Linked DNA regions of Homo sapiens: region 2 is linked to region 1. Evidence: fine-mapped expression QTL. A gene starts in region 1. The other region holds a variant in brackets. All regions are shown on one strand. Distances are from middle to middle. Region 1 holds the start of MAML3 (mastermind like transcriptional coactivator 3). Region 2 overlaps MAML3 (mastermind like transcriptional coactivator 3).

Region 1 (16,649 bases):
ATAGTATACACAGCTTGCCATAGTAGTAACTTCCTGCTCCTATCCATGCGTGCATGCGGCCCTCAGAGAACGCCGAATGCTGTGCTTCTGTCCCAAATGGAGAAAGGAACTCAAAAACCCCTCCACTGTTTAACAGATGGAATTGCCAAGTAGACTTTAAAAAAAGTGTGCTCCTTCTCTGATCCACTGAATGGAACCCCATGATCTTTAAGTATTTATTATACAGCAGGCCCTCAACTCCATTTTCTGCATAATTTTATCTAACCCTATTTCTTTTGTTCTTTAAACTTTCTTAGATTTAAACAACAAAAAAATTAAACTAAATTAATCAGTTCTTGGTGACAGCTGATTTTTCAGAAGCTACATTTCCAAGTCACAAAACTAAATAGTGAATTTTTGGAATCTGTCTGGAAAGCAGGCTGTATTTGTAATAAAAATTTAATTTGTGGGGGGATACTGTAATTTTGGAGCAGTCATCTGCAAATTAACTTATTTGGCAGATACCAATGTCAAATTGGTATGAAACAACAGGAAAGTAAAGCATATTATAATATTTTCCTTAAAAATCATGGAAAGGTGATATAACACCCTGAAGCCTGAAACTGCTGTCGTTAGTGCCAATGACTATACTGATTTTTAAAAATCTGGCCGGGTGCGGTGGCTCACACCTGTAATCCCAGCACTTTGGGAGGCTGAGGTGGGCAGATCACAAGGTCAGGAGATCGACACCATCCTGGCCAACATGGTGAAACCTGTCTCTACTAAAATACAAAAAATTAGCCAGGCGTGGTGGTACATGCCTGTAGTCTCAGCTACTCGGGAGGCTGAGGCAGGGGAATCACTTGAACCCAGGAGGCAGAGCTTGCAGTGAGCCGAGATTGCATCACTTCACTCCAGCCTGACGGCAGAGTGAGACTCCATCTCAAAAAAAAAAAAAAAAAAAAAAAAAATTGTTACGCCCTTGAATCTGGCTAGAATAATACTGAAAATCTACAGAGAATATATATTGTCAAAGTCTTGGATGCAAGAGCGTGATTTAGTATCTTAACTTCCATGAAACACTATGGACAATGTACCAATGCTGCTGAATGAATGAATGAAATTAGAAACTCAGTCTTTATTATTTGTGCTAAGTAAGAATAAAGGCAAATCCATACTAAATCCAAAATGGTATTGTATCTGATTGTTTCATTAGTTCTGAGAGTCAGGAGCACCAAAATTAAATTTTTTCTCTTCTTATTGCTTCTTCCCACTCTTTGATAACGGTGTTAAAGATCACTGAAAAGACCAAAAGGTTGGCAGCAGGTGGGGGGAAGGAAAAACAAAGCAAGCAGCCAGGGGATCTGAAAACTCAACCATCAGCCTTTGAATAATAGAGTGAAAAATGTAAAGCTATTTGGGAGACTTAAAAGGTAGACACTATGAAAATCTTGACAGTGAGTTTTAAATATGTTCCTCTTTATAAGAGTCTGATGTCTGTTTGATTGATTTCACAGTTCTCCAAGATGGGTAATGTGGAAAAAGACAACAGAATTTAGCCTTTTTAAGCTCAAGAGTATAAGACAGGACTGTTACTTAACAAACAGGGAACAGTAATCACACAAGTACTTCAAATATATCCAAGAATTACTATTTAACATGCAAAACAGGTTCTTACACTGGATCCCTTCTATGACACTCACACCAGGGTGAGTGAGTGAATGAGTGAATGTGTGTGTGTGTGTGTGCACGTGCATGCATGAGAGAGAGAAATGCCTTATATTCCTATCTCAACCAAATGGGCAGGAAAACTTCTTTAACAACAGTTGGCCATTAGTCTCACAGCGATATTCAGAAAATAACTCCATATAACTCTATTTTACTATTAAATTCCTCATCCTTCTTCTTCCAGAGATGTCAGTAAACTATGTACAGGACTGCCCATTTTTCTCCTATCAGGTGGCAGAAATCCTAAAAAAGATTCTAAAGTTTGCCCTTATAATTCTAATGAGACAGGATAGAAAGTATCAAGCATACTAGCTTCCTGAAAACTTGGCTTTCCCTGGGAAGGAACTCAGCTTGAAGAGCATTTTGTAGATTATGATTAATGCTTAACTAACTCTGCTTCTACTTTTCTGACCACTGGCTGCCCAGTACTAAATAAAATATACCACAACCAAATAACATAATAGAATTAAACATGTATTGGAGCTTAAAAAAATGCTTCTTGAGAATTAAAAGAAAAAAATACATATGAAGGACAGAAAAAACAAAATTTCAAAAAGTTTTCCACAAACTTAAGGCATGCTGTGTTGGGCAATGGAAAGCTTTCCGAAAGACAGTCTGTCCTGTTACCCATGCTAGCGGCAGAACAGGATAAGCCAAAGAAAAGGTTATCATAGGGAAGATGTAGAAATAGCTTGGTAATACGAGCTTGCCAAAAAAATTGATACAGAGCCAGTAATTTACCTTCAACAGGGTAAGAAATGGGAAGCCAGATTAACGTATAAGGACATTCAGCAGTGGACTAATATGTTGACATTTCCTGAATCTATTCCAGGAATGGATGGAACATTTTGGATGGGTTGTAGTTGTCTCCAATACTCGGTAATAACGCATTTATTATTAAATGCATGTTATGAATTTTTTGTGATAAGCTCTTCAGAACAGGGGTCACATAGATTTATGCAGTCTGTAAGCTGTATATAAATTAAGCACACTCTGAAAGTTACGATGGTGCTAATACAGTGAAGAGGTCATGAAAATAATATGGTCTTATCTAAGTCAACTAAGACTATCACCATTTTAAAATTTTGAAAACTGTGCACTGTCATGCTTTTTGATGTGCCTGCTCAGCTTGAAAATGTACTTGTCAATTGAAATTTGCCTTAAAATTTTAACCAGGACCTCAGTTCCAAATACAGCAAATAAACAATGCCCCCTTTTGTTACCACAAATAATTAAAAGCCATCTTTTCAACTGAGGCTCTCTGATAGGTGAAGTCAATAATTTTCACCAAGTCTTTGAGGGGAAGAAAAAAACTATGTCAATAAAGTGGTGGTGGTTGGGATGGGATCATTTGACTACATGTTCAGAACGGACCTAATACCTGAGGTAGTGCAGCTTCAAACCCAGGTCTGTGCCACCTGCTCTATCAACAGGGCTGGTGAGGACTCACACAGAACCCAGCCCCCTCTGTGGCAGCCTGGAGCCAAGGAAAATTTTTTACCCCTCACCCACTCTGCTTTTTGTTTGCTATTTTTTTGTTGTTGTTTTTCATGCCCATTCTTGTAAATGTGTAAGATAGGAAAACAAATCAAAAGAGGCAAAGCCCTCATTAGACTGCCTTCTTAATCCAAGCGAGGCAGAAAGATAATTAATCGATATTTAGTACTTCGGACATATTGGTCCTTAGAAAGTAAACAATACCAATGAAACAGTAAAGAATCCTATTCATCTTTATTTTTATATCACCGTTATTATTATTTGGTTGTGGGTGATCATTGTTTTTCTTTAGGGCTTTCCAAATAGAGCGCCCAATCTGAGAACTACATTTAATTGTTCTGTGCCTCACTGGAGTACAACTATAATCCTGCAGTCAATTCAAGAAAATGAAGAGCAACGTTTTCTTTACAACCTCTATTTTTGAGATTTTACCTCAATACAGACTGTTAAAATACTCTCAGAAGCCAAGGTTAACTTTTAAACTAATTATTTTAAAAGGAAATATAACTTGTAGAGCATGTTTCTTTCTTTTTTTTTTTTTTTTTTGGTACACAGAATTTACTTGCAACTCTGCTTAAGAGTTAAGGCTTACATTACATTCATCACACTCATCACACATACCAGTGAGAGATGCATGTGAAACAGCTGAAGCTAAAATACACTCCTATTCTGTACACAGCCCTGGCATTTATTAGTGCGTAAGTCTAATCAACAGGCTAAATCATTGTCATAAAATGACAGAAAATTTTATTTTCACGCAGTCATCTTTCAAGTCTATTTGTTGCTAATTTGCTAAACTGGGATTCACTATGAAATCTACAGCTGATGTCTCTGTCTATTGAAGCAAGCATTATCTTTCTATTTTCAAAAGTAAGCTGTGGCTTGGGCTTGCTGTCTTCTTCCCAGTAAGGTCAGGAGGCTGGGCTTGCTTCCACCTGCGAGTGTATCACAAACCAGGCGCGCGCACCCGAGCCCTCCCTCCACCAGGGCGGAAACCAGAGAACACAACCCAAACACCGAAAGTTTCTGGTCGCAAACTCTACTCATCTTGCCGTGTCCAGAGACCCGGCACTGGGAACGGCACTGGCTTTTGTTCCAGGGTCCCCCAGCTGGCGAGGTAAACGCCACAGCAGTCCTTGATCCCCAAAGGTTGTGAGAGATTCTGTGGCACGGGAATTTTGGAGCCTCCCGAAAGGAGCCCATTTCTCCGCAATCCATGCGCGTGGGGTGTACAAATACACGAAAAGAGGACGCGGGGTGGGCAGGCATGAAACCTTCAGTGCCTCTTAAATTCTCAGTCTCAGGTTCACAAAGTGAATCTCCTCCTCCGTGGAAGGGCGCTAGGGGGGCGGGGGCTGGGAGAGAAATAGGTTGGAGAAAGGGACCGGAGCTACAGTCGAGATGCGGGACCGGCCCCGCCTCCGGCTACAATCAGAAAAACTACAGTGTGTCAGTGGTTTTCGGTTTCCTGTTTGTAAAGCGAGAACCTCCCCCGACTCGAACTGTCGTTCTTCCTCAAAACCAACCGAGACGGCCCCTTCTTCGCGCTCGGGGCAGGCTCAGCCGCAGGGGGAGCGGAGAGGAGGGACGCGGGGGCATGGGGGGCGCGGCGGGGCGGGGACAGCCGCGATGAAGCGGGCAGGGCCACGGGGCGCAGCACCCCTCCCAGCCCAGCGGCCCCGGGGTCTGAGCTGGGCCGCGAGGCGGACAAAGCGCCTCCCGCTCCCTCCCCCACGGCCACGTTCCAAAAGGGAGGAAGAAGGCGGGCAAGAGTGGCTGGAGGAGGAGGAAGGGAGGAGGAAGGGGAGGGGGAGGAGGAAGAGGAGGAGGGAAGGTGCTGCCGGCGGGACTGGGCAGGATCGCGCCGACCTGGGAGGGGAGGGAGGAGGGGTTGAGCGCCCCCGGAGAACTGGGAGGAGGGAAGGATTCTTGAAGCCCAAGATAAACAAATTGTTCCTCTTCACGTGCGGGGTGGGGGGACGTGGGGAGCGAGCACTGCGGCGTCGCCTCCCCTCCCCCAAGCCGACTCTTTGTCACCGAGCGCCGGCCCGAGCCCCCGGCGAAAGCCCACGGCAGCACTGGCACCACCCCGGCGCCGGGGACTCACAGACCGGGAACGTGTGCGATTTCTAAACCGCACGACGGGAGGGCCGCCCCTGCCGGGCTCTGCGCCGCCGATCGCTGGGCGGTCTGCACGGGAAACAGGCGAAGGCGCGCGGCCCCGGCACGCTCCAGGATTCCCGTCGCCTGGCCCACCCAGCACCCGGGCGGCGCGGTGCGGGGGGGGGGGGCACACACCTTTCCCAAGCTTCCGGCCTCCCCTCACCCAGAAAGGAAAGCAAAAGAACCGGAGAGGGGAGATAAGAGAAAGGATTCTAGCCTCCGGCTTGGGGGGTGGGAACTGCCCCTTCCTCCTGGAGAAGTTAAGCCATTGGCTGCTCATCCTACCTCGAACCCGCCCACCCAGCCATTTAAGCCTCTTTTACCTCCCTGCTACCTTCCATTGCTCTGGGCTTATTAAGCAGGCCCCCAAAGTTGGCGGGCAGCGGGGCAGGGGGCGCCAAGCGGAGAAAGACTCCGTGCACGCAAGTTTAAAAGGAAAAAAGGAAAGAATCCCAAGCGAAGTTGTGTGGTGGGGCCTCTTGGCGCAAACCCTGGGTATTGCTTTCCCCTCCCGCCCCCTCCAGGCCGCTCCCCTCTTAACCCTCCCAGCCGCTCCACCTGCCGGGCTAGCCCCGAGTCGCGAGCAAAGAGCGGAGCGCACCCGCGCCCCGCATCCGCGCGCGCTCCCGCGAGCACCCCCGCGCGCAGCCACCCTCGCTCGTTTCTCACCCACTTCAAAGTTCATTCACAAAACTCTCAGACTTTCTCAGCCCAAAGGGGGTGAGCTGGGGAGAGGAGGCGAGAGGCTCTCCTTCCCCGCTTCCCCCCTAGGGGTTGAGGGCCTGGTGCCCGCCCAGAACCTGCGACAGCATCAATATTTCCACGCACCCGGCGGATGTGCTGAGAGGGGTGGGCGTAGGGGGACGGGTCTGGGGAGGCGAGGCGGCGCGGCTAGAGGTGGGGTGGGGAGCGGCGAAGAGGAGGAGCAAGGTTTCAACTCAGGGGTTCACTCTTTCAAATCGGTATCTTAAGAAAGGGAAGGGGGGAAACTTTTCCAGCACCTCACTCCGACGCTCCTCTAGGCTCCCTCCGCCCCTCGCAGTCGTGACTGGCTTCTCCCCTCTCGCCCCCTCCTCCCCAAATCTGACAACCCTGACAGATTAACAGGTAGCGACGACGGCAGCTTTTTCCCTAAGAAAAGTTGACGTTAACCCTTAGGCTTCAGCCCACCTCACCCACCGTGCAAATCAGACCCTTGTACCCCCATGTAAGAAGCTCCACGCGCCCCCCACCACCACCACCACCCCCAACGCGCGCCGCAAGCCCGCTGCCCGTGCGCCCTCACCATGATCAGCGTGTGGTTCCTCTGCTCCGCCGAGGCAGCCTCCGCATCTTGCTGGGGTTTGCTCGGGTGCTGCTGTTTGCCGGTGCCGGCGCCCGATTTCTTGGCCCTCTGCTCCAGGGTCCGCTGGTAGAGGCTCACGGTGTCCCGGCGCTCCAGCTCCAGCTGCTCCACCTGAGCCTGCTGGTACCTGTTCTCGCAGTTGACGTGGTGCCGACGGCAGCCCTCGATGCGCTGGCGGAGCCGCTCCACCACGGTGCTGTGCTTGGGAACGGCCGCCGAACCGCCGCCGGGGCCCCCGGAGCCGCCGCATCCACCGGCTGCCGGGTGATTGCTACTCGGAGCAGCGGGAGTACTATTGGGAGTATTATTCACACCGATCCCGGCCCCGCCGAGGCTGCTGTTCAGGCTACTGTTGATGCAAATACTACTGCCATTCGCGGCAGCAGCGGGGGCTGCGAAATCCCCCATCCTGCTCCCCGGGCACACTATTTTGGAAGAACTTTTTTTATCCACCCCCCTATCAGCCTCCTCCTTGGGTCCAAGGATTAAAATAGTTTAAGTGGAACGCGGGGGAGACGCAAGCACATGGATGGAAACGGCGATCCCGACGGGGCGAAAAAAACGGGGGGGGAGATTTTGGGGTGGTTTTTGTTTCCTTTTTTTAAACTGTAAAAGCTCAAGGGGAAGAAAAGGGGGGAACGTTATCGGAATACCATCAGACACCTATCAACAAAAAGAATCACAACAAACTGAGCCAGCAGCAAATCGGGTTGCAACTCAAGGGGAGATCCGCTCCTTGCTTGCCTTCTTTTTATAATCCATTATTTTCTAATAAATTCCAGGAGATTTCCGGTGGTTGGCAAGCATTTTCTCCCTACATACCGAAAAACACACCCCATGTACACACACAAGCATATGCCTCCAGTGCGGACACGCGCGACACACACTCACTCCACACCGCATCGGAAAACGGCAAGCTTGCTTATTGCATTTTCCTTCCACAAAAAAGTTTTGGTGTTTATGCCGCCCCGTGTTCTCAAAGTACTTTGGCTGCTCAGTTGCATTTCACAGGAACCTAGATATCGAATCCTCGGGCTGGGGGAAGTAAACACATGGACAGTCCGAGGCGACTGCAAAAGTAGATCGGTGAAGTCCTTTGCAAAACGCCGCGCAGAGAGCAGCACCTAACGCTCGGCTGGGCTGCCGCTGCCGCCGCTGCTCCTGCCACCATCACAATGATCAACTGCTCGCCGCCGCCGCCGCCGCCGCCTCCTCCTCCTCCTCTCGCTCCTCCACCTCCTCCTCCTCCTCCATGCCAGCGGAGTGATATCAGGACGCGCGAGCTCAGTAAACACGGCAGCGGCGGCGGCTGGAGGCCGTGAGACAGGCCCGCGGACACGGCGCAAAACCCGGCCCGGACTCTCACCCGGCAGGAGCGGGCGCGGCACGCACCAGCACCCGGCTCCCGTCTCCGTCGCCTCGGCGCCCGGCGCCCCTCCTACGCCCCCAACCACACTACCGCCCCGCCGAGAAGCCCAGAGCCGTCGGCGACGGAGAGAAGAAAGATTCTGGGGGGATCTCAGAAATAAATCAACTTTTGACCTGTGTGTGTGCGTGAGAGCGTGTGTGAGTGTGTGTGTCTGTGTATGCGCGCGCGCGTGCGCGGGGACGCGCCTGGTAGGGTTTCCTTATTCCAAGGAAAGTATCAAGCGATCCCAAGTTGTTGTTATACATTTATGCATTATATTGCAGAACTGTGCATGACCAGGCAGAAACATTGAAGCTTTACAGCAGTTGTCTGTCATCCCTATCCATGTGGAAAGAAAAAGGCAAATGAGTGACTTGTTTTTAAAACCCAGGTAATAAGTCTGCGCTAGTAACAGCGCTACTTACGGACACTTGTTCCAAGTCTAGGCCAGACTGAACACACAAATACCAAATTCTAAATAAATAGAAATAGGCATCAAAAATGTGTAATATTTAACTCACTGTACATAATGATTGTTGTTACTAAGTCAATTATTGTTTTACTTACCCTTGGAAAAAAATAAAGCAAGCAGGGACTTGGAGGTGAGACTAACAGTACATTTAAACAGACTGTTTTGAACACTAGGTGCTAATGACAGCAGTAATTAAGGTCCTTCGTAAATCAAGTGGAAAGATTGCAGATTTCATAGACTAGAACTATAGAAAAAACACAGCATTTCACAGTTTGTCATGACCAAAACAAAAACAAGCAAAAATAACAGGCCTACTTTATTGCTGGATATATTTCTTTCCATTTCAATGAATTCACAATAAGTACAATTAAAATGGACTAGCAACTGCAGAAATCAATCTAAACTTTCCATTTTATTAAAGCACATTATCTTTCCCGATATTATCTAAAAACAAAAATAACAACTAAGGATCAAATATTCTTGAATATGGACTTAAACCATTGCATATACATATTTTTAAAAATTAAGATGGAGAAATTATTATTTCTCTAATAATCAGTAAACTATAAATCTTGATTGTGAGATGTTAATTATAAGTCATTTTGTATTATTTCAATAAATCTTAAGAATTAGTTTTTAGGGTAAAAATACACCCCAGTTTTCTAAAATAGCCAGGAATAAAAGAACTTTGGATCTTATGCATTAGTCATGAGATCTGATTTAAACCATCTTCATTTCTTGGCATTGCAGATTAGCACAGGATGCTATTTCTAACCTCATAATGTCAGCGATAAGAAGCTATATTTTTCTTCAATTAATCAGTTCTATATAGTGAACGATATTTTTAATATTCACTGGATATATGGCAAAATGGGCAGCAAAATATTTAATACGGTGTGAGGCTACTTCTAAGCAGTAAAACCAACTTAAGAGAGTGTATATTTCATTGAAGTTGCCACACTTTTTCTGAAGGCTATTTAGTTAATATACAAATTTCTGTATCAAACTGCCCTTCTTCAAGTCTCAGTCAGAAAATTTAACTGGACTACGTCTGTAGCAAAAGAGCCCGTTCAGATTCTGAAAATATGTAGAGAATTTTAAGAAATTAGAAAAAGAGGTAGCAAAGTGGCCTTTATCTTTTTCACATATTCACTAAATAATATCTCTATTAACTCAGGAAACACATGGCTTCGCCACAGAGGGGAAGCTATGACTCTGCATTCGCTTTGCTCTCTCTTCACCGTAGTTTAATTCTTTTTTTTTTTTTTTTTTTTGAGACAGAGTCTTGCTCTGTTGCCTAGGCTGGAGTGCAGTGGCGCCATCTTGGCTCACTGCAACCTCTGCCTCCCGGGTTCCAGTGATTCTCCTGGCTGAGCCTCCTGGGTAGCTGGGATTACAGGTGCACGCCACCACACCTGGCTAATTTTTGTATTTTTAGTAGAGACGGGGTTTCACCATGTTGGCCAGGCTGGTCTGAAACTACTGACCTCAGATGATCCACCTGCCTTGGCCTCCCAAAGTGCTGGGATTACAGGTGTGAGCCACTGCGCCTGGCCACACTGTAGTTTAATTGTTATCCCTCCTCCTTCACTTGCCTCCATCACCCACAAAAGACTGCAGTTTGATTTACAGAGGCAACAAATTTGAGGGTCTTAAGCACTGGGTCTTTAGTTTTTGAGACTTGGGTTCTCATTTTAGCTTTTTCCTGTGACTCAGAATTTAATTATTCATTGAGAGTTTCTCATTCTGGGGAAAAAATGACAACAATAGCAGCACCATGTATTCCCTTCAAGCTGTTTACCTCTCCTACCATGAAGGGAAACCAAAAAGACACAAGAATTTGCATCCTTCCCTTTGGGGAACCAGCAGGTGGGACAGCACACTTTGTGGTTTTACCACAGAGTTCCCCAATGACAAATGAAGCTCTTCTTGCACAACCACAGTATACTTTGCTGCCTGATTTTAGTGCATGAATGGGCTATACCCAAAAGAAAAACTGTTACATGTGTACACACAAACAAGCGCACACACAGGCACCCGTCTTTCATCTCTCCAAAATGGGAGTGGCAGCCACAAGCTCCATGCCCCAGATGTGGGGAAAGGAAGAACTGTGAAACTGTGTGATGGCCAGAGGGGAAGAATCTTTGAGAAACCGACCTGTGCAGGACTCTGCTGTGACGTACCAGAGGTCAGAAACCCCATTCTCATTGTGCAGGAAGATTAGAAGAAAGAAGCAAGAAGCAAGCAAGGCTTGCATCTTGAGCAACATATGCCAGTCACCCTGAATTAGAGATGTTGATCTACTCCAGTGACCTTAGAAGAAACAGAGACCTTTATGCTGGCTACTTCCAGATCCCATGATATGGTCCTGCAAGGTTTCCAGCTTTGTTGGTCACCTTCCTAAAGAACTCCTTGAAAGTCATAGAGAAATCCAAGTTCTGGAGAAGCAATTTTAGTCCCTTCTCACAGCACAACACTGACAGCATGACCATCTTTGTCTTTTCTGTGAGCCTGCTACAAGGCAAAACTTCAGGATGAAAGCGGTAGACACAGCATCAATGCTATTGTTCTTGAATGACAAAAAATAATAATAATAATAATTGAGATGCCATAGCAGTGATGAGAAAGAAATTACTATGACTGCATCCCCAACTGTGATGATATCTCTCTGGATGCCAAGGAAAGAAGGGCTTGATGAATAAGTAGCTACACCAGGTTATCCTGTTGTCCTGGCTCTGAGCCAAAGTTGGCAGTTCTGAGGAGTTCAACCAGGTTCCATTTCCTTTACACCAAGTCTGTGTCATCTTCCTATATTCACCTGAGAAGGCCTAGTGTCCCAGTGACAAGAAAGAGACCTTTGTGCGGAAATTCCAGTCTATGTGCCCCCTCTGTTTCCCTCTTACTATGGATCAATAGATCTGCTTTCATAAAAGAGTATCTTGTGGCTAAAGAAGAATAGGAACCCTCTGCTGCCCACATATGAGCAACCAAACCTTTATATCTTTCCAAAGTGGGGCCCAGGCACTCCTAAATTACTAGCAGCCGGGGGATGTGCCCTCAGCTGTCTAGCAATAGGTATCATTTCAATAATTCCATGAATATATTTATGGCCTTCTGTGTGCCACACACTGTGGTAGGCACTGGGTGAACAGCATAATAACAGTGTATAGAACACAGTCCCAACCTCAATGACGGCCAACTAGAATCAGGGCAGTATATGCCATAATAGAATTAATATGGAGTGGGTGTAGGAACAAGCAAAAGAGTGCATGCTTGGAGGAGCTAAGAATCCGTCTCCAAAAAAATCCAGTGGTAGTTCCTTCTCACACGATTGTGAGTGTGAAAGAGTGTGATGAGAAATGAGATGGAGGCTGGGGAGACAAGCAGGACCTGGATTGTTCAAGGCCATCCAGTTTAGACTATATCCTTGGGACAATGGCTGCCATTAAAAGGACTTAAGCTGATTTACACTGTTTACTTTGGCAATGCAGTGGATGTATTATTATAGCGTTTTCAGAAGTGTGTCTGAAAAACTTGGTTCCGTAAGATGCTTTACCAGAAAGGCTTCTGAGCTAAGTAAGTTTAGGACATGTTCTGTACTGCATCTCTCCAAAGAGTTATTACCACATTGAAGGTCACAAGAAATCTTGAAGCAAAGCATGTTTAACTTTGTTTAACCTAACATTGCCAAAATCCTGTTATGTCCCACAGAATAGAACACACTCTAGAAAGCTCTGTGGTATAGGAGAGAGTGAAAACTGAAGGCAGTTCTAAATCCACTTAAATTTACAACAATTGCCTGGGCACGTAGCCTAAGTCAACGACCACAAGGCCCTTGCCATCTGCTCTACCAGAATCACTAGTCCAGATCTCCCGGGCCTTCCTAACCTCAGCTGGGTGTGTGAATTCTGACCTTTAAATATTGAGGAAGTAGCAACACAAAGGCAAAATCCCAAAAGGGTGAATTTGACTAGCCTTTTTCAGCATTAGTACTTTGAGTATGTTATATTAATATCTATCCCTGTGTAATAAAACCTCCTTATTAGGAGAAAAGGTTGGCCTTATTTAACTGAAAAGATTATGTAATATCTTTAAAGCTATAGATTTTCATTACATTTGAAGCATGCACTCTGTCTAGCCTAACAAAACTGGCCTCTTGGAGCTATTTTAATGATCTCCTTTTACCTATGAAGCAATTGCATATAGGTGACATGCCTCATGAACTAGGGGTGTTTCAAAAATTTGCTTTCTTAAGTATTTAAATACCTCTCGCAAGATTCTGTGTATGTTGTTAATTCTCATTTTTTATTAAGAAGGGGTTTACTAAGTCCTAGACCATGTCATAAATTTTGAGAGGAGTATGAATTAATAGGATTTATTTTCTTATTCATGTATTTTAATATGTATATAATAGTTTCATGGTTATTAGGGGAAAGGTTATCTAAAGTCCATGGCAGAGAAATTTTTTAAAAGTCTCTCATTCTGTTTCATATATATTTCTACTCTCACGGTTAAATAATATAATAAGGCATCTGACTTGAACAATGTCTGGCTTTCATATACAAAGTTGAAGACTTCTGAAAGAAAATATTTATGAATTTTTAAATTTATTGAAGGCCCATAATCAGCTAAACTGTTAACGTTAGAAATAATTAATTGTGATGGCCAACAGTCATTGAAAATTTGCTCTATTCCAGGTTCTATTGTTATCCTCTATTTCACTGATATAGAAACTGAGGCACAGAAAACTTAAAGAACTTTCCCCAAACCACACAGCTTAAAAATGGCAGAGACCCAATTTGAACCAAGCTATGGAAGAAATATGTAACCAAGTTCCTAAGGTTCCTTCTCATTTTAAGATTCTACCTTTTTACAAAACTAAAAGTACTGTGTTTTGGCTGGGGGCGATGGCTCACTCCTGTAATCCCAGCACCTTGGAAGGCCGAGGCAGGCGGATCACCTGAGGTCTGGAGTTCAAGACCAGCCTGGCCAACATGGTGAAACCCGGTCTCTACTAAAAATATAAAAATTAGCCAGCCATGGTGACGCACGCCTGTAATCCCAGCTACTCGAGAGACTGGGGCAGGAGAATCACTTGAGCCTGGGAGGCGGAAGTTGCAGTGACCCAAGATGGCGCCACTATACTCCAGCCTGGGTGACAGAGTGAGACTACGTCTCAAAAAAATAAAATAAAATAAAATAAAATTACTGTGTTTTACCCAGATCTCATTTTAACAGAAGTTTGTTGCTGCAGAGGGGTTATAGCTGAGGAGTCATTTTTGTAGAAAGCTGTCTCTGGCCATGCTTCCCTCAGCCCCCATTCTGAGCTAGCCACCCTCTCAGTGCTCTGAGAATAGTGGGCATTTTTCTGTCTTTGTACTTATATTATTACACTCTATTATAACTGTTTATTTACCTGTCTATGTCTCACTTGTGTTTTATTGGTCTTGGGACCTAACACAGGGCTGTCCATGACAGAGCTCTGTAACTGTGTGTGGGGGACACGTAAATGAAAGAGGGAATGGTAGCACACAATTTACCAAAGTTACAAAATCAGAAAGGGACTTGTGTGTGGCCAGTGCCAGGCAGTAGCCCCCGAGGAGAGCAGCACTGCACTGCCATCCTATAGAAACTGTTTGAATGCAATATAAGAAAATCATAGTGCGATATGATTTATATTTCAAAATGCTGTGTCTCTGGGTTTGGGGTATTCTATAAATTGACTTGGAGAGGTGCAGAGGTGGAAGAGAGGCGGAGGAGAACCAGCCTCTTAGATCCCCTCACCCCAACTGCACTCTGCTGTCTGTCAGGTGGGGAAGGGGCTCATATTTGTTGTACATCACAGCCAGGTGTCGGCTACTGGCCAACGCATTTTCCATATATTAACCAATGTGATATTCCCAACAACCCTAGGATGTATGGAAACCAGAGCTGGCCCAAATGTGCTTTTAACACACATGAATTAAACTATGCCTTCTGGTTTGTTAAATAAAAAAGAAAAAGAAAAAAGTGTGTATATATATATATATATATTTTTTTTTAAGCCTTAAAACTATTTTTACTGTGTGTGTGCGTGTGTGTGTGTGTGTGTGTGTGTGTGTTTTCTCTCTTTTTTTTTCTTTTATTTTAAGTTCTGGGATACATGTGCAGAACGTGCAGGTTTGTTACACATGTGCCATGGTGGTTTGCTGCACCTATCAACCCATCATCTAGGTTTTAAGCACCGCATTCATTAGGTACTTGTCCTAATGTTCTCCTTCCCCTTGCCCCCCACCCGCCGACAGGCCGCGGTGTGTGATGTTCCCCTCCTTGTGTCCATGTGTTCTCATTGTTCAACTCCCACCTATGAGTGAGAATGTGTGGTGTTTGGTTTTCTGTTCCTGTGTTAGTTTGCTGAGAATGATGGTTTCCAGCTTCATCCATGTCCCTACAAAGGACATGAACTCATTCTTTTTATGGCTGCATAGTATTCCATGGTGTATACGTGCCACATTTTCTTTATCCAGTCTATCATTGATGGGCATTTGGGTTGGTTCCAAGTCTTTGCTATTGTAAATAGTGCTGCAATAAACATATGTTTATTTTTAATTCAATGGGTCCATCTACTTCATCCATACTCAAATAAACAATGGAGAGGCTGGAGGTGGTGGCTGTAATCCCAGCACTTTGGGAGGCCAAGGTGGGAGGATCACTTGAGCCCAAAAGTTTGAGACCAGACAGGGCAATACAGTGAGACCACATCTCTAAAAATATTTTTTAATTAGCCAGGTGTGGTGGCAGGCTTGTTGTCCCAGCTACGTGTGGGGCCAAGGTGGGAGGATTGCTTGAGCCAGGGAGGTTGAGACTGCAGTGAGCTGTGATCATGCCACTTCACTCCAGCCTGGGTGACAAGAGTGAGACCCTGTCTCAAATAAATAAATAGCTAAATAAATAAATAAATGGTGGGATGAGGGCTATAGATTTTGGAGTTGCTAAGAGTCTATAGAGGAATGTGCCAAACTCTGTATACTAGATTTACTTTACCTCATGGTTGATAGAAAGTGCTATGGACTGAGTTTGTGTCCCCCGCCAAAATTTATACACTGAAACCCTAATCCCTAGTGTGATAGTATTTGGATGTGGGACTTGGGAGAGGTGATTTGGTCATGAGGGTGGGGCCCTCATAATGAGATTAGTGCCCTTATAACAAAAGACAGGAGAGAGGTTGCTTCCCCCCCACCCCACCCCCACTTTCTGCCATGTGAGGGCACAGCAAGAAGCTGTCCACTTGCAAACCAGAAAGACAGCTTTCACCAGCAACCAAATCAGCCTCACACCTTGATCTTGGACTTCCCAGCCTTCAGAACTGTATGGGATAAATTTCTGTTATTTAAGCGTTCTAGTCTATAGTGTTTGGTTGGTTGGTTTTGATACAGGGTCTCACTTTGTTGCTGAGGCTGGAGTGCAGTGGCACAATCAGAGCTCACTGCAGACCTCCTGGGCACAAGCAGTCCTCCCACCTCAGCCTCCTGAGTAGCTTGGACCACAGGCGCGCACCACCACACCCAGCTAATAGTCTATGGTATTTTTGTTATAGCAGTTCAAGCTAAGGCATAGGGATTTTAAGGTAATTACAGCTATAGGCCTGAGAAAGATGTAACTCCACCACGTTATTACTCCCGTTTTATTGATGAGAAAACAAAGGCTTAAAGAGTTTACATAACTTGCATTCAAATCAGGTCCAAAGCCTCTTTCTTACCTACCACCACACAGTCTGAATTCCCATTTGTGGGGTGGTTGTTGTTGTAGGGGCCTCGTAGCTATTCTGTCTCTGCTAGTGCCATTTATTTAGCAAATATTTATTAACAATTGACAAGTCCTGTGTAGGTGCGAGGGATACATACATGAAAAGAAACATTTTCCTCCCTAAAGGAGCTTAACAATCTGGTGGTGAGAAGGAAATGTACATAATACAATAGGCTAGCAAGAGGGAAGTATAGTCAGTTCTTGATTGGGCAGAGTTTAAGGGAGACTAGGAAAAGGTTTGTCACAGTTAAAACGAAACTAGAAAAAACAGA
Region 2 (16,649 bases), 280 kb before region 1:
AAATAGTGCAATTTCAAATACAGCAACTATCTTCTCTCTGTCTAGCTAAAAATTCAATGAAATACTTCACTTTATTTGTCTAAATAGTTATTCTTTTTCTCCTTGGAGAATCAAAATTAACCTTCAGTTGTGTTTTCTTTTAGGGGATACAATAAGGTGGAATGTTTCTTCTTGAATGGTTCAAGGGTCCAGTATCCATCATGAAAGAGGGGAAGGTGCAGAAATAAGATGGATCCAGGTGACCTTGGGGAGAAATCATTCCTAGTCCCTGCTTTTAGCTCCAAAACCATCCTTCTTTTGCCTTTCATATCCCTTGTCCCTGAATTACAGAGCCCTTTGACCTCTGTAAAAGGTTTTTTTTTTGTTTTTTTTTTTTTTCATTCTCTAACTAAACACAATAATAAATTAGGAGTCCCTATCTTTGTAGAAGTGGTCCAGGTTCTGGGCTTCTCCCTTCTTTTCATCAGCCTCTTTTTCCTCTTGTTTAACTCTTCCCAACTTATCCTCTTCCCCCCAAAATGAACTAGGCAGTCTTAATGACTCTGCCTTAATCTCCTCACCAAGTCTTTCTTCCTTTCTGCAGTTACGCCTTAGACATGCGCACTGAGGGGCTCCTGAGCTGGCCTCAGCCTTAGAGAGCCTGCTTGGGTCCTCCTCTGACCACATACATGTCTACCACCGCAAGTAGTCTGCAGAAGCAAGGCAAGAGCCTGTGTTCCCACCTCTAGACCATTCTTTGGATACCCGGAGCCCCAGATTCTCTGCTTAGAGAATTTCAAGTCTGTTTTCCCAGGTCCGTCTTCTGGAAGGTGGCCACACAGCTGTGTGCACCTCTAGGCCCAAAGAATGGCCAAGGGGCATGCAGGTGGACCTTGGAGGTATGGCCAGGAATGTCCCACAAATGTAGGAAGCTCCTGAGGTACAACACAGAGCCAGGGATGGAAAGGGAATTGGGTGGTCCAGGGAACCCAACCTGCAGAACCCCCAGGAGGCAGGGATTCTACATCAAACTGGCCTTCCCAGTGGCCACGAAGGTATACTTGTCAAGATCAGCTGATAGGACATATTGTACTTAATTGTTTGTTAGCTTGAAGTATAACAATTAAGGATGAGGCCTGTGGTACATCTGCACTCTTGCCTTGGGCTCCACAAATGTTAGGGAGGGACACGCTTGTCTCTCCTCACCCAGCGATTTTCCTGCAGATCTTCTCCAGTGCTAAATGCACATGGATTTAGGCAGTGAATACAGAACAAAGTTTGGACCTTCAGTGTGGCTGAGTGCCTATTCCTGGTAGCCAGGCCTTCTTTGCACCATCCCTCTGCCTCTTCAGACTCAGTCACCGACAGAAGGCAGTTAATTTGTAAACAAGGAAGATAAGCTGCTGTGTGTCCCCCAGAGAGGTTTTCACGGAGCTTGGGGGCTCCTGGGTCAGACCCCGCCCAAGATGGAATCTATTTGCGGCAGTAACCACAGACAGGTGACCTATTTTTTTCTTTATTGATTCTTCTCTCTTCCTCACTGTCTTGTTTCACCCCTCTTTTCTAAAGTATGTTTCAGACATAGAGGGAGAGGCTGTGATGGAAGTCAGCCAAGCGAAGACGAAGGGTGGGGGAGCAGTCGGCAATTCCAGTTTGACGCTAATGATTTGTGTACAATTCAAGGTCAGAGAATGATATGTGAGGCTTGTGCGCCCACCCACACAAGCATACACAATTTAGTACTTGATTATATCAGCATATAGCGCTAATACATCTCATGCTGCCTTGTTCACTTGCCTTTCCAATTAGAAAGAAACGCAGAGGGCAGGGACCACATGTTAAGCTTCTTTTGTTCCTCGCAGCACCCACCACCTTATTAGGCACATAATGGGCATTTGATAAATATGTTTTGTTAAAAGAGGCTTGCTTTAATGAAATAAAATGTGTTCTTGAAATGTGCTAAATAAAGTCAGTTTTTGTAAATGGAATCCGATTTTAATGATACTGGGAAAGTTGCAATGGGAATACTACAATAAATCCTTTTACAAAGCCAATAACCATTCCGTCTGGATTGTCATGTATTTTTTACCCTCTTGGACCTAAACCAGAAAATCTTAACCCAGGAATCATTGAATCCCCTGCAAATGTGTCCATGTTTGCTTTGGGAATGTGTATTTTTCTGGTGATATTGCTGTAGCTTTCATTGCATTCTCAAAGGGATGTGTTACTTCAAAAAGAAAAAAAAGTTAAAATCCATAGGCCTAGAGGGTGCCACAGAAATGAAGCTAAGGTTCTAGGAAAGTAATTTACCAGCTTTGGTAAGCAGAAAATGATAATCAGAGTTAACATTTGTTGAGCATCTGCTACATACCAAGCTCCTGACAGTCACCATATTTAATGTTGCCTGCAAGGTAGGCACTATCATCTCATTTGGCCAATGAGGAAACTGGAGAGGCTTGCCCCAGGCACATAGTTGTTAAACATCAAATGTGAGATCTGAACCAGAATCTGTTGATTCCAAATTTGGAAGTTTTCAATAAAATGGTTTCTGTTTCTCTGGTGCCCTACCTAAAATAATAATGATGACAATGAAAATAATAATTTAACTTTGAGAATATTATTATCACTATTTCACAGATGAGAAAACTGAAGTTAAGAAATATGTATGAAATTCAAGGATAGCTAATAACTTACTGAAGACCCTGCAGCTGGTAAGTGAAGGTCCATCCCCTGGCTGAGGCCACCGCCCCACACTGCCTTCACAGCCCCTGTGGGATGGCCTGGCTGCCCCGGGACTCTTAAACAAAAATCAGTGAACTGGGTCTTTGCTTCAGCATACCATAATTATTCTTCTGGAATTGAGTTCTCTTCCTTCACATTTCTCTAGAGAGAAGTCCAATCTGTCAAGCATTTATAAGGCACTTCTTTTGTACCTAGGGTTGTGTTAGGCACTGTGGGAAACAGGGAAACACATCTGTGGGTGTGAGTGTGTGTGTATGTATACATGTAAAACAGCCACACTTTTTAAACTAAAATCCTACATATTGTTTTAGACCATCTGATTACACTTAGGAGCTATTTAGGAAAATGGTGACTGTGCAATCAACTGTGCAAGTTGTATAAGAAACACTCCCTGTTCAATCTGCAAGGCATACTACCTACAAATTTAGCAGGAATTTAGAGACAGTACTGTTGATATTGGATATATATGGAAGTTTGGTCATAGGATCATTCAAGATTCATTTGACATTATGAATTCATTCCACTTAGCTACTCAGCTTGATACTACGAAAATAAATTAAAATGTGAAAGTGCTGTTAGCTCTTTGAAAGATCATAACATTGAAATTCAAGTTTAATATGTCACCTAAAAGGCAGTTTTACACGGAAGTTAAGCAAAGCCTGGGCCCTAAACTCAAAGGTCTCTGAGTTCAAATCTCTGCTCTGCCATTTACTAGATACGTGCTCTTAGAAAAAATTCACTTGATGTTTCTAGGCCGCGGTCTTCTCATATATAAATGGAGGTAATAATACCTTTATGACAAGCCTTGTGAAGATTAAATGAGGAAATGTGTGCAGAGTATGTGGAACAATGCTTGAAACATTGTCTTCACTTAAAAATTGTGGCATTTTGTCTTTATAACTTTGTGTCAAAAGAAATAGAATGTGAAAAAAAAATGAACTGGTAAAATTTCTCTCTAAAAATCAAAACAGGATAAAGGAGACAAATAAAATTCTCCTTCTCCACGAGTGATAGCAGTGGTATTAAAACACAATCCTTACAGTAAAAGCTCACAGGAAAAGAATTCTAAAATAAGTCTTTTCCTGTGCATAGGTTTATCCAAATTTCTTTCTCAATTTTATTTATTGCTGTTGACGTTTAATTGCTAAAATAATCTTAAGGGAGCCACAGAAATGGGTGGGGCACTCAAGAACTGTGCTATGGTCTTTCTGCATGTCAGCATTAGAACAGATTATTTCAATCCCATGTTTGTGTGGAAAGCATGCAAAGAGAAGATAGATTGACAAGCCTGATTGGTATGTTCCAATTCTTTTGCTTCCATAGCAATTTAGTATATGGAAGTCAAACTTCTTTAAAAATCCTAGTTTGCAGAAAAGAAAGGCTGAGTGCTGGCAGCAGAAGGTACATGATACTGGGGAACTCTACTCTTTACTCCAGTTGACAAGCAAGCAATTAGATCCATCGAGCTGCGGATCTATGTTCTCAAGGACCCAAGGAAGTCAGCTTTTGGAAGGCAATAAAATTTTTGTTTTTAATATGCAGTGTCCTTCAGTGAAAATGACAAGGAGGCTGAAGTAACTTTAGGATGCTGCAGACAAGAATTCTTTATCCAGAGATAAAGGTGAAAAGACCCAAGAAGCTGGATAAGAGCTAAATAAAAATGTCTTGCCAAAATGATGCTAGAAAGTACTAATTCTCAGACATTTGCAGAGTATTTCTCCATGATCAAAAGGCATGCAGACAAGAAATACACCAGCACCTATGTGCATGACCAACCAAATACCACCCCACCCCCGCGGCCAAACTCCAACAAAACACACGTAATATTCATTAAAAAAGAAACCTTTATCTGAAAGATGGGATGGAGGGAAGAGTGAGGGGGAAGAAATATAGAAAAGAATTGCAATTTGTTTTACCACCTATTACCTTCTAGGAGATAAAACGTTCTGAAGCTAACAGGCCACTGCCTTGGCAACAGTAGAAAAAAATATGAGATCAGAATGTTGGCTGTGATCTTGAGATGGCTTTCTTGTGCCCATTTCATTCGGTGAGTGTCAACATGTAGGCAAAATTGCATAAGGTTTAAGAGCTCAGGTTTGGATTCAAATAGGCTTTGCTTTGGTTCCTAGTTCTAGTGTTGACCATATGACCTTAAACAGACTACTTAACTTTACATGTCTGAATTTCAAGATCGTTTGAAGATTAAATGTTTCATGTCAAGGGCTTAGTACAGGTCTTGGCACATAAAGCGCTCCATGAATGGTCACTGTGAATATGTACCTTACTGTGGATCAGAGTTTCTCAGCTTCTGTACTATCGACATTTTGGGCTAGATAATGCTTTGTTGTGCAGAGACTGTCCTGTACATTGTAGGATATTTAGCAGCATCTCTGCTCTCTTACCCACTAGGTGCCAGTAGCAGCGTCAATTCCCCGTTCCCCTCACCCCACCCTACCCCTGGCCCCCAAGTTGTGACAACCAAAACTATCTCCAGATGTTGCCAAATGTCCAGTTGGTGATTGGGGAACAAAACATCTGAGGTTGAGAACCACTGCTTTAGATCAATCCAAGTTCTAGCAGATGAGAATAACTCCATTCTTCTTTTGATGTATTTATTAATATTTTTAAGCCTTGAAATGAAAAATTGCTTTTTAAGCATTAGAAAATGCATACTCTTCTTTTGAAAGCCTAGCAATAAATCCCATAACTATCAGGGTCTTCGTTTCCTCATCTTGAGCCTTATTTCAAGGCTCCCTCTGTTCTAAATTCTGACCTTGAAAACTCTATTCCTACCTCTTTCTTTTTTTGGACAGGGTCTCACTCTGTCGCCCAGGCTGGAGTTCAGTGGCGCAATCACAGCTAACTGTACCCTCGACCTCCTGGACTCAAGAGATCCTTCCACCTCAGCCTCCTAAGTAGCTGGGACCACACTTGACTAATTTTTGTATCTATATCTTTCATTTCACCAAAGATTTAAAACAATTTCTCACTATGAAGAAACTTATACAAGCAATATACATTCAACAGGAAAAATGAGGAAATTCAGATAAGCAAAAAAAGAAAGAAAGGAAAAGAAGTATCAGTTGTGTTTCCATTAGTTAGAACTACCTAGGGCTAACATGATGATGAGTGGGTTTTCAGATGTTTTTGGAATGCATGTTTGTGTGTACATACACAAATATACATGCAGTCACACAATACACACATTTTATTTCTTGTGTGCTTATCATTTTTTCATGGTATATCATTTTTTCATGGTCATTAGTTCTAGCTATCTCCAGACTTGATGCTAGACTATACATTTTTTCTCATGTATGACATTCCTCAAGAAGTGGTTCGACTCATATGTCTTTCTTTACCTACCACCTAGATAAGCCCCAAATTCACACTGTTACTCCTTTATTTCTCCACAGAAAAATAACTTTCATTACATGTACAAATGACAATTAAGCCAATTAGAGTAAACAACTTTTGGTCAATTCAGCTCTCACTTTGCCAGGAACCAATGGCCATCCTCAGTTTTTTTTAAGTATGGAGGTTTGGAAGTCAAATTTGACGCCTTTCTTCCTTTCCTGTCCCCACCCCTGCCCACAGTCACTTCCACAATCTCTTGCTTTTTCTTTGGACCTATTTCCAGGGTCACACGCAGTCAGGTCCTAATTATTTTGTTCCAGGTATGCTGTTTCCTAGCATCTCTCCTGCCAATCACTTTGATCGAGATAGTACTCTCCTCTTTTCAGAAACCTACAATGACTACCCATTGCTTCTTGTATCACAAGCTGAATCTCTCTAATGAGCTTTGAGGGGCTTCCACACTCCCCTGGGTCCTCCTCCCTGAGCTGTGTCTTCCTCAGGTTGCACTTTTTGTTCCTTATTAACCCTTCGCAACCCAGTTTCCCTACTCCCCTTTCTGATCAACAGTCCATTAAAAATAAGGTAAAACAATGCACAGTGCTGACGTCTTTTTAAAAAGAAGAAAACCCTAGGACACTAATACAATTATCCTTTTGCTTATGCTTCAGTTATCGGTTGTAACTACTTGTTACATTAATTGGGTGTATCTTTGTTACAGAGGATTAATAAATGTTTTATTTATTTATTTTAGTTTCAAAAACATGCCTTGAAATTTCACCAGATTGGGTGAAACGTGTTTACAATACTAGGAAGTGAACAGCAGGCACTAATTTTTTGTAGCAGTATTTCTCATCAAGGCACATGCATTTACCTAATCCAAAAGATGGCTAGCTTTCTCAGTTAAAAGGTATACAGAGAAATAACCCTTGCATTTGATCATTGTAACTTGGACAACATTTCACTCTATTGAATATAAACGGGAATCTGTATGCTGTTATTATTTTAAAAAAAATTTTTTAATCCAGCTTTTAGTAGAGGATAAACTTCTTAATGGCAAGGACCATGGCTTTTACTTCCTTTGTGAGGCTCACAATAATGGGAACACAGCTTCATGTGCAATTGGTCTTCAATAAATGTTGCTAGGTGATTCATATTTGAATGGGAAATGGAAAGAAAAGCCTGACGGACTTAAAGGATTTGTGTGCATGCATCTTGCTGTGAATAATACAAATGTGGAGAGAGATGACTAAGTGGACAGCATAGGGCATAGAGAGCTTTGGCCCCTGAAATACTCAGTAACAGGAAGTTACAGTGTGACTAACTGTAACCAGGTTGTGAAATGGAAAGCAGAGGAACTGGAGGATGTACT[G/C]GAAGAACTCAGGGGTGCACACAGAAGTGAACTGCAGCATCAAAGATGTAATGCCTTTCCGGGTGAGAACTTCAGAAGGAAGGACAGCACAGGGGACAAAGGAAGGGATAGAAATGATAAGTGTCTTAAAATGAAAAGGTGATGGAAAGAATTCTTAAGGCAGAAATAAAAATCCTATCAATAACAAGGTTGGGTTTAGAGTTAAAAAAATAATCACACGGCCGGGCACAGTGGTTCATGCCTGTAATCCCAGCACTTTGGGAGGCTGAGGTGGGTAGATCACCTAAGGTCAGGAGTTTGAGACCAGTCTGGCCAACATGGCAACACCCCGTCTATACTAAAAATATTAAAAAAATTAGCCGGGCATGGTGGTGGGCGCCTGTAATCCCAGCTACTCAGGAGACTGAGGCAGGAAGAATTGCTTGAACCCAGAAGGTAGACGTTGCAGTGAGCTGAGATTGTGCCACTGCACTCCAGCCTGGGAGACAGAGTGAGACTCCATCTCAAAAAATAAATAAATAAATAAATAAATAAATAATCACGCAGATATTTTGTTTCCTACTTTAAATAAAAGCAAGGCTTCACATTTGACCACAGAATGTTGTATTGCTTCTCTGCTATGTGGCACAGCTTTGATATCAGGTCCAGGACTGCTAAGTGAAAGAAAAGAAATTTCTGGTATGTTTGGAGCCTATGATTTCATCCCTCCTCTCACTCCAGCACATCTGATCTATGTATCCTCAAAAATGGAGCTGCTCACCTTTGCCAGCTCAGTTCTTCCCATCCTAAGCTTTCCTGAGCCAGTACCACTTAAGCATGTTATAAAATGCCAAAGCCATTCATGGTCATTATGGTGTCCACAAATATGTTCACAAATTCTTGACACTCCCTTCAGAAGGGAGAACCTAATCCCTCTCTCCTGGAGTGTGGCTGGACTTAAATTATTTTGCTTCTAATGAATGAAACAATGAAGAAACGAAGGTGTGTGATTTCGATAGTATGTCATGAAATGAACTGTGGCTTCCTCCTTGGTCTCTCTTGAAGCTGACTCAGGGGAAGCCAGCTGCCATGTCATGAGAAAACTTAAGCAGCCCTGTGGGGAGGTCCATGTGGTGAGGAACTGAGGCCTCCAGTCAGCAGCCATGGGAGGGAGCCACATATGAAGTAGAGTCTCCAGCCCCAGTCAAGCCTTCAGATGACTGCAGCCCACTTGACAGCTTCACGGTAGCCTTATGGAAGAGCCTGAGCCATAACCACCCAGCTAAGCTGCTCCTGCATTCCCTTGAAAACCATGTAAGATAATAAATGTTTGTTGTTTGAAGTGGCTATGTTTTGAGCATAAGTTGTTACACAGCAATAGATAACTAATATGGTAATCTTTCCAATAGAGCTCTTCTTTACTTTGGAGTTAAGTTTTTAAGTTTTATTAAAAGGTCTTTTCATTATTTTGGAATATGTGTTTACCTGCATTTAATATGTAAATGGATCAGATGTTATAAAATGTTCAGGTAAATTAAATCCCACCTTCTTTTTTAGCTTCTGATTTTAACAAAGAGAAATGATTTTTCTCATCTACTGAGGTACCAGAAACAATGAGGGTACTGTAAGGCCTCAAAGAGTCTAACAGACCTCTAGAGTTAGGAGTGGGGAGTGGCTAGATTATGTCTTGAGATGTTTTCCTCATTTAAAATCATTTAACATAAACAAAAAAGATGGCATTTTAATATTGTACTTTAAAATATGAAAAATAAATAGTTTTTATTTTAAATAGAGGTAAATTATGCAGGAGGAACAATCTTGTCAGAGCCAAGATTGATTTTTTTTAAAAAAATCACCAGTGAAACTTGCTAACAGTTGGCTTTTAAAAGAGAACAGTAATACACTTTTACCATTTTGTTTACAGTCCCTGTCTATAAAATTTTCACATATATATGATAATATATTTCTTCCAGAATCTTTCTATCTTTGTATGCACAATGCCTAGACACCACAGGCACATAAAATATGTTGAATGAATGAATGAATGAATGAAACTGGCTTAAAGGAAAACTGAAGAAACTTACACTCTCCTAGAGGATTAAAAAAGTACAAATCACACGATATGATTAATGTTTTTAATTTTAAAAACACAGTACATCCTATGGGTCTGATACTATTTTAAATGCTTAACGTAAACTAATACACAGAGTCATCCTAATATCTCTATTGATTATCATCCCCTATCTTTCCTTTTTTTTTTTTTTTTGAGATGGAGTCTTGCCCTGTCGCCCAGGCTGGAGTGCAGTGGCGCGATCTCAGCTCACTGCAAGCTCCTCCTCCTGGGTTCACGCCATTCTCCTGCCACAGCCTCCCGAGTAGCTGGAATTACAGGCGTCTGCCACCACGCCCGGCTAATTTTTTGTATTTTTAGTAAAGATGGGGTTTCACCATGTTAGCCAGGATGGTCTCAATCTCCTGACCTCGTGATCTGCCCACCTCGGCCTCCCAAAGTGCTGGGATTACAGGCGTGAGCCATCATGCCCAGCTGATCATCCCCATCTTCTAGATGAAAACCTAAAGTACAAACAGGTTATATAACCCGCCCAAGGTCCTGCAAGTTCTGAAGTGGTAAAGTCAGGATTTGAAGATCTGTTGTGGCTTCAGAGCTGACTCCCGACCTCTACACTCTGCCACCCTCCCTACGAAGGCAGCTCCTTATATGATCCTACCTGATGTCATACCTAGGCAGTTCTCAAGTCAGGAGAAGGTGGAAGTGGTGGGAGCGCTGCAAAAACGGAGAGAACTGTGACTGCTTTGCAGTGTTTTGGGGAATTGTGTTTATTCACCAGTTTCTCTCACTAGACCGCCAATTTAACACTCTGCCAACTGTCCAATTATTCATGTTCACGTGGAGCTAAGTGGGTTCTTCTCCAGCTGCACACCTTTCTTTCTCAACATAATTAATGAGGCTCATCAAAACCCTAGAAAACAAGCCCAGCGCACCAGCCACTCTCATTGACATGTTAATAGGGGGTCAGGTGCTCCTGACCTCACAGCAGGATGTTTATATGGCCCCAGGGCTGCTCACAAATGTTATATGTTGACTACAGGGTGTCATGAATAAGGGCGTTCCTTTCCCAGTAAGCAGCTGCACTACACACAAATGGCCATGGAAATCTCTGAAGGCAGTGAGCCACACAGATCAGGTGAATTCTAACAGCATGGGCACAAAGCCGGCTGGGTTGGCTTATCCAGAGCCTGGCCAGGCGGAGGGCACTGGAAAGCACTAATTCATTCCATCCAGTGTAGGATTACATAGTTTTTAAAAGGCAATGTAAAGAGTAAGAGACTCACAAACAGCAAAAAAAAAAAAAAAAAAAAAAAAAAAATCACCTCTGGTCTTGCCTATTACTTTTCTGATCACAGAACTGATTTTTGGTGTTTTTCTAACTCGCGCTGTTCAACACAGTAGCCACTAGCCACATGTGGCTGTTGAACACTTGAAATGTGGCTGGTCCGAATTGGGCTGTGCTATAAGCATAACAGGCACATCAGATTTCAAACACTTGGTATGAAAAAAAAAGTATGTAAAATATGCCATTAGTAATCTTTATATTGATTACATGTTAACATAATCATATTTTAAATATACTGGGTTAAATAAAAATATATTAAGATGAATGTCACCAGCTGCTTTTTACCTTTTGCAACATGGCCAATAGAAATTTAAAAATCACATAGTTTGCACTGGTGGCTTGCATTCTATTTTGATTGGACAGTGCTGCTCTAGAGTTTGGAAACTCTAAACCTGTCACTGCTTTGAGAGGGATGCAAGGGGCAAGTGTGTTTCCAAGTCTTGTCTCTGGACTTTTTCTGCCACACTAATGAAACTCTTACCAATGGGTGATATTGAAACTAACACTATCTACCAGGAAGGCTGCAATACACTCAGATGTGAATCGCCTCCTGTTCCAGGGCCTTCAATCACCCTTCTATTCGCAGGCTTTGAAGTACAGGCTCTGACTGGCCCCAGCAAGAGCACACTTTGGCACTCTGTGGCACATGTAACTCATTCTTATTGCACTGATCTAAAACCTAGCTCTCACTCACAGTGGCTTTTAGGGAATGATCATGTGGACCCAGGCTGCCACCGATGGCTGTGCAGTTTGTGCCTGGCACAACAGTGTCCAGCAGAGGGTACACAAGGGGTTGCCATCACACCTGGGGTGCCTGCAGGCTGGGGCTGCAGTTTATCGGCTCAGAGGCGTTGCCTGAAGTGGACTGCACTCTACACCCAAGGCAATCTTTTTTCTTGCACCCCTGACTAACTTCCACATGGCACTGAAAGTACTCCTGGCCTAGCAAGCCCATTAAAACATCCTTTGTATGAATTGGCCAGAGCCCAGTGCAGAAAAGCAGGCCATATAAATTCCCAAACATCTCAGATCTAAGAAGAGCATTTAGAGAATGCAGATATGTTTATAAAACCTCCTGTAGGAAATCATGATATTAATAAATGGGAGTTATTAGTTTGGATATAATTTGGGGTCACTATTTACTGCTGACTAAATAAAACATATAGGTAAATTGCATAATCTCATGTGTCATATTAACTAATCATGACAATGTATTGGAAATCTAACTAACATGAAAGATATTTTGATTCTCTATGTACTAGATCCGCTGCAAACCATTTGTTGTCATAAAGAGGATGAATTCTAGAGAATCTTGCCCAGGAACCAAAATATAATAGAGTATCTTTGTATAGGAAAGCAGCATTTCCCCCCACCCCCCGAAGAGTATTATAACCTCTAGAAGAGCCCAGAGTTGTATGAATAGTTAATGAACGATGACATAATATACTTTAAAGCTTGGAACTGTTTAAAGTGTGCTCCAAAAGACTATCTTTAGAAAGGACTCTCTTCAAATAATTGCTAAGATATGATGAAGTAAATCTTTATAATAAAAATATTAAGCAAAAGGAACATATGATAGTCTGTTATTACTCTAAGAAAAACAACCACTTTCATAGTGATATGAATTTACTAAAAAATAAACACCTAAAAACAAAAAGCCCAACCATAAAGCACAGAGTAGCTATTTGTGGCTCAATGCTGCGAAAACTTTTTAAAAAATAGCCATGAGCTTGCTTCACACCTTTTGCAGAGTGTGGGACAAGTAGTACCTCAGAAAACTGGAAATATAAAACAGAAGAATAAGATAAATAATAGCAAAGTAAATTACGTGTTTAAATTGCTTTTAAATATACTGTAAATAAGATTTGATTATTTACATGTATACATGTGATCATCTTTCAGAAACTATTATACCATCCCAATATTTAATCTTATGATCATAAATATTTGATTCATTTCCTTTTATCTTGTCATTTATTCAAGCACCAAGTTCTGTTACTTCTTCCCTCTAAATGCCACTATGGCCATTGTTCTCTTAAATTTTAACTGCTGTGTCCAGATAGACATTCTTACTGTCTCACACTCAAAATAGTAGAAAGTCCTCTAAATGTTCTCCCATTCAAATTTTGCCTCGCTATTCCGCACCGGAACCCTTCCCTCCAGCCTGGCTATAATCTAAGTTGGCCACGGAAGGAATAATGCTTTGCCGCCAGCAGGATGCCTTTCTACCCACCCTCTATCCCGCCAACTCCTACTCATTCTTGGTCTATCTCGAAGCTCAGTTGCCCTCTGGAGGCTGCTCTTGTCTTCTCCAGGCTGCACTGACCCTTGCTGTTCTCCCTGCCCTGAATCCTGAATGTAAAATTTAGTAAGGTAGCACTGACTACTCGCTCCCTTGTATCGCCCTTATCTCCCTGACCAGACTGCACATTGCTGGACACTCTAGGTTACACTGTTTTGGTATCTTGCTTTGGTCCATAATATCATGACTTTGAGGAGTGAATATACACAGGGAGGATATGATTGGCCATTTTACAATTTTCTACACCTGTGTCGAACCCTTAGGCTAGTAGGCTCCTCTTGGGAAAAAATAAAGCTGGGCCTACTCTCTTACCTGTGAGTGCACTGGGTAGGGGCCTAGGGTGTAGCAGAATGCACCTTGAAAGGAAGGGAATCTAAGAGTCTGGAAATGGAATGAAGTTGGGCATCCGGCTGAGGCAACATCTCCCTGAAGCTCAGGAGCACCTGGGAAAGTTGCTTGTCTGCCATCCTTGATGTGATTGAGCATCAGAACACGGAACACAGGGTTGTGGCTGACCTCTGTGCCTGAGAGCAGTCTTGCTCTGAGGAGAACAGCCCGAAAGAGGCCCTACATAAGCCTTGTGTCGCCTTTAATGTGTGTAGTATCCATTCCTTTGCGGTCTGTCTTTCTATAGATCTTAAGGAAAGCAGCCTGGCACTATAAGACTGTGCCCTTAAATCCTGAGACAGAAAAATGAATAACAAACCCTCTCTTGGAGGAAAAATCCCACTCTTCACCACATTGGGACTGGGGAGAAGGGACCACTGGAGGATAGACTACTTTGTCCTATTCAGAGAATCAACAGGACAATAACTGCCATATTTAAACATATACAAATATTTAGCAATGAAATAAACACAGGCTGCTTGAACTGCAGTCTCAGTGTTATGTTGCTTTTTGTTTGTTTGTTTTGCGCCCAGCCCGCAGTGTTATCTTATGTACTATTTCTCCATTTGAAAATGGTAGTGGTGGCCGGGTGCAGTGGCTCACGCTTGTAATTCCAGCAATCTGGGAAGCTGAGGCAGATGAGTCACTTGAGGTCAGGAGTTCGAGACCAGCCTGGCCAACATGGTGAAACCCCATGTCTACTAAAAATACAAAAATTAGTGGGGCATCATGGTGTATGCCTTTAATCTCAGCTACTCAGGAGGATGAGGCTCAAGAATCGCTTGAGCCCAGGAGGCAGAGGTTGCAGTGAGCCAAGATTGTGCCACTGCACTCCAGCCTGGGTGACAAAGTGAGGCTCTGACTGAAAAAAAAAAAAAAAGAAAAGAAAAGAAAAGAAAAAAGAGAAAGAAAATGGTGGTGGTGGTAGTGGTTGGGAGAAAATGGTCGTGGTGGTGATAGTGGTTGGGAGATGTGGGCGGGGGGGTGGGGATGTTCATTAAAATGCACATTCCCAGGCCTCATCCCAGATCTACAGATTCTGGGCCTTTGGCAGTGGAATCTGATTGATTACCTGCATCTTGAATGCTTTCCCCAGGTGATTCTTAGGCCCATAAATGTTTCAGAACCACTGTTCGATGGGTTATCAGCTCTCTCAGCAAACAAGAATATTCTCATCCCCTAAAACCTTTAAGGAGTATTTTCATAGGAGTGCAATTAAAACCTCTTTCGGGCTGGGTGTGGTGGCTCACGCCTGTAATCCCAGCACTTTGGGAGGCTGAGGTGGGTGGATTGCCTGAGCTTAGGAGTTTGTGACCAGCCTGGGCAACACAGTGAAACCCCATCTCTACTAAAATACAAAAAATTGGCTGGGCGTGGCGGCCTGTGCCTGTAGTCCCAGCTACTCAAGAGGCTGAGGCAGGAGAATTGCTTGAACCCAGAAGACAGAGGTTGCAGTGAGCCCAGATCGTGCCACTGCACTCCAGCCTGGGTGACAGAGTGAGACTCCATCTCAAAATTGAAAAAAAAAAAACAAACAAAAAACCTCTTTCTTCTAGAAAGCTCATTCCTTTCCTAAAATGTTTCCTTTTCTGCTGCTTTCTCTTAGCCTCATATTTCTAAAACTCTGACAGAATATCAGTTTCCAAAATATGCCAGGATGTACACGGAAATGAGGTATTTTACCCATCAGCAGGGGCACTGCACTTAAGATCTGGATTTTGGGGCCCTTCTGCTTGCTGGTTTCCCCTCAGCAGGGAAGGCCTGGATTCAGTCAGTGAGGAGTGTTCTGTCCATATTCCACCTTGCCCCTGAGTGGCCAGGTACTACTGGCTTAGTCAGAGTCATGAACCTAAACTGTTTTCATAGTCCTTGAAGTAAGTCAGTATTTCAAGATTCTGAAAACTACTCAATAGTTATAATCACAAAATCTTCTTCCAAAATAGCATGATGATCATGTTGACACTGTTGTCTTTTTCAATACATGTATTTGACATGTGTAAATTTTGTGTTAAGAGAGCACTTTTGGTTTTGTGAAACCCACTCTATTGGAGCCAAAAGTGTTAGAAACAATAATGTGAATTCTGCTGTAAAATTATAAATTTCAATTTGGACAATATTCGATATTCAACAGAAAAGTGTTGAAAATCACTGAAGGAGCCTCTGGTAGAATGAACACCCACATTAATCTTGGCTTCCTCCGATGCTCCAGTACAATCACAATACAGGAATAAAAATGACATAAATATTTAAGAACAAAGAAGATGGGAGATGGCAATAGGAATTGAGGGGTGTCAACAAAATTTTGGGAGATGAAAATCAGCTGGCTGAGTGGTAAACGACTTAGCAGCTTAGAGAAAGCTGAATCTAATCCTGCAGTAGAAGAAGCCAAAAATCAAGCAAGATGATTCAAGCTAAACAACGCTGTGAAGACTTAGGAACCAGAGGCACCTCTGAATGCCAGGGTAGATGGGAGTGCAAAAAGGAAAACTGGCTGCAATCCTGTATAATTAAGAATCGGACCAGATACCCTCCCTCAGACAAGAAGAAGGCGGGTGGATTACTCTGCAGAGATGAAACCACAGGACTCTGGAATCCTGGATCCCAGGCCTAGCCAGAGTGGGTTGAGGAGCCATATGAAAACAGGGAGATTAAGTGAAAGTCTACATAGAACTTAGTAAGACACGCCCCTCAGCATCACCACCATTTCTTACCTCCCTACCCTTATTCAGCTCCAGAAAGCCAGCATCCAAGTTTACAACCCTCAGCCATGAGATGGAAGTCTTTCCTGTCTAGCTTAAGGGAAAACAATCTACAAACATTGACCCAGTGAAATGGGCAGGTTCTAGGCGAATCACCCTATAACAAAGCACCACACTTTACAAGCCCCATCTAAGCACACAGAGCAACTAATTAGCTTTATTTTGCCTCTCTCTTAAACAGATATTTGAGAAAAGCTTCTTTTATGAAAGAAAGAAAAACAAGCATATGAAAAAATATGCTTAGGAGAAACAGACAAAGCAGGAAGCACAGGAAAGCTTAATTGTATTTATTTATTTATTGAAACGGAGTCTCACTCTGTTGCCCAGACTGCAGTGCAGTGGTGCGATCTCCGCTCACTGCA

The links.
Region 2: its variant is fine-mapped to the expression of MAML3 in whole blood (INTERVAL, PIP above 0.99).

What each region holds. Positions count from the first base shown.
Region 1 is chr4:140,146,208-140,162,856 of GRCh38, forward strand. It overlaps MAML3 (mastermind like transcriptional coactivator 3), which reads right to left and starts at 7,977. Exons shown (of 5, transcript NM_018717.5): 1 at 6,653-7,977. The coding sequence starts at 7,120. RefSeq lists enhancers at 3,851-4,695, 4,696-5,538.
Region 2 is chr4:139,865,133-139,881,781 of GRCh38, forward strand. All of the region lies in intron 2 of MAML3 (mastermind like transcriptional coactivator 3), which reads right to left. Among named protein-coding and RNA genes, the nearest start is that of MGST2, 210 kb to the left of the region's middle. RefSeq lists an enhancer at 10,050-10,773. The variant G/C (reference allele first, on the strand shown) is at 7,445.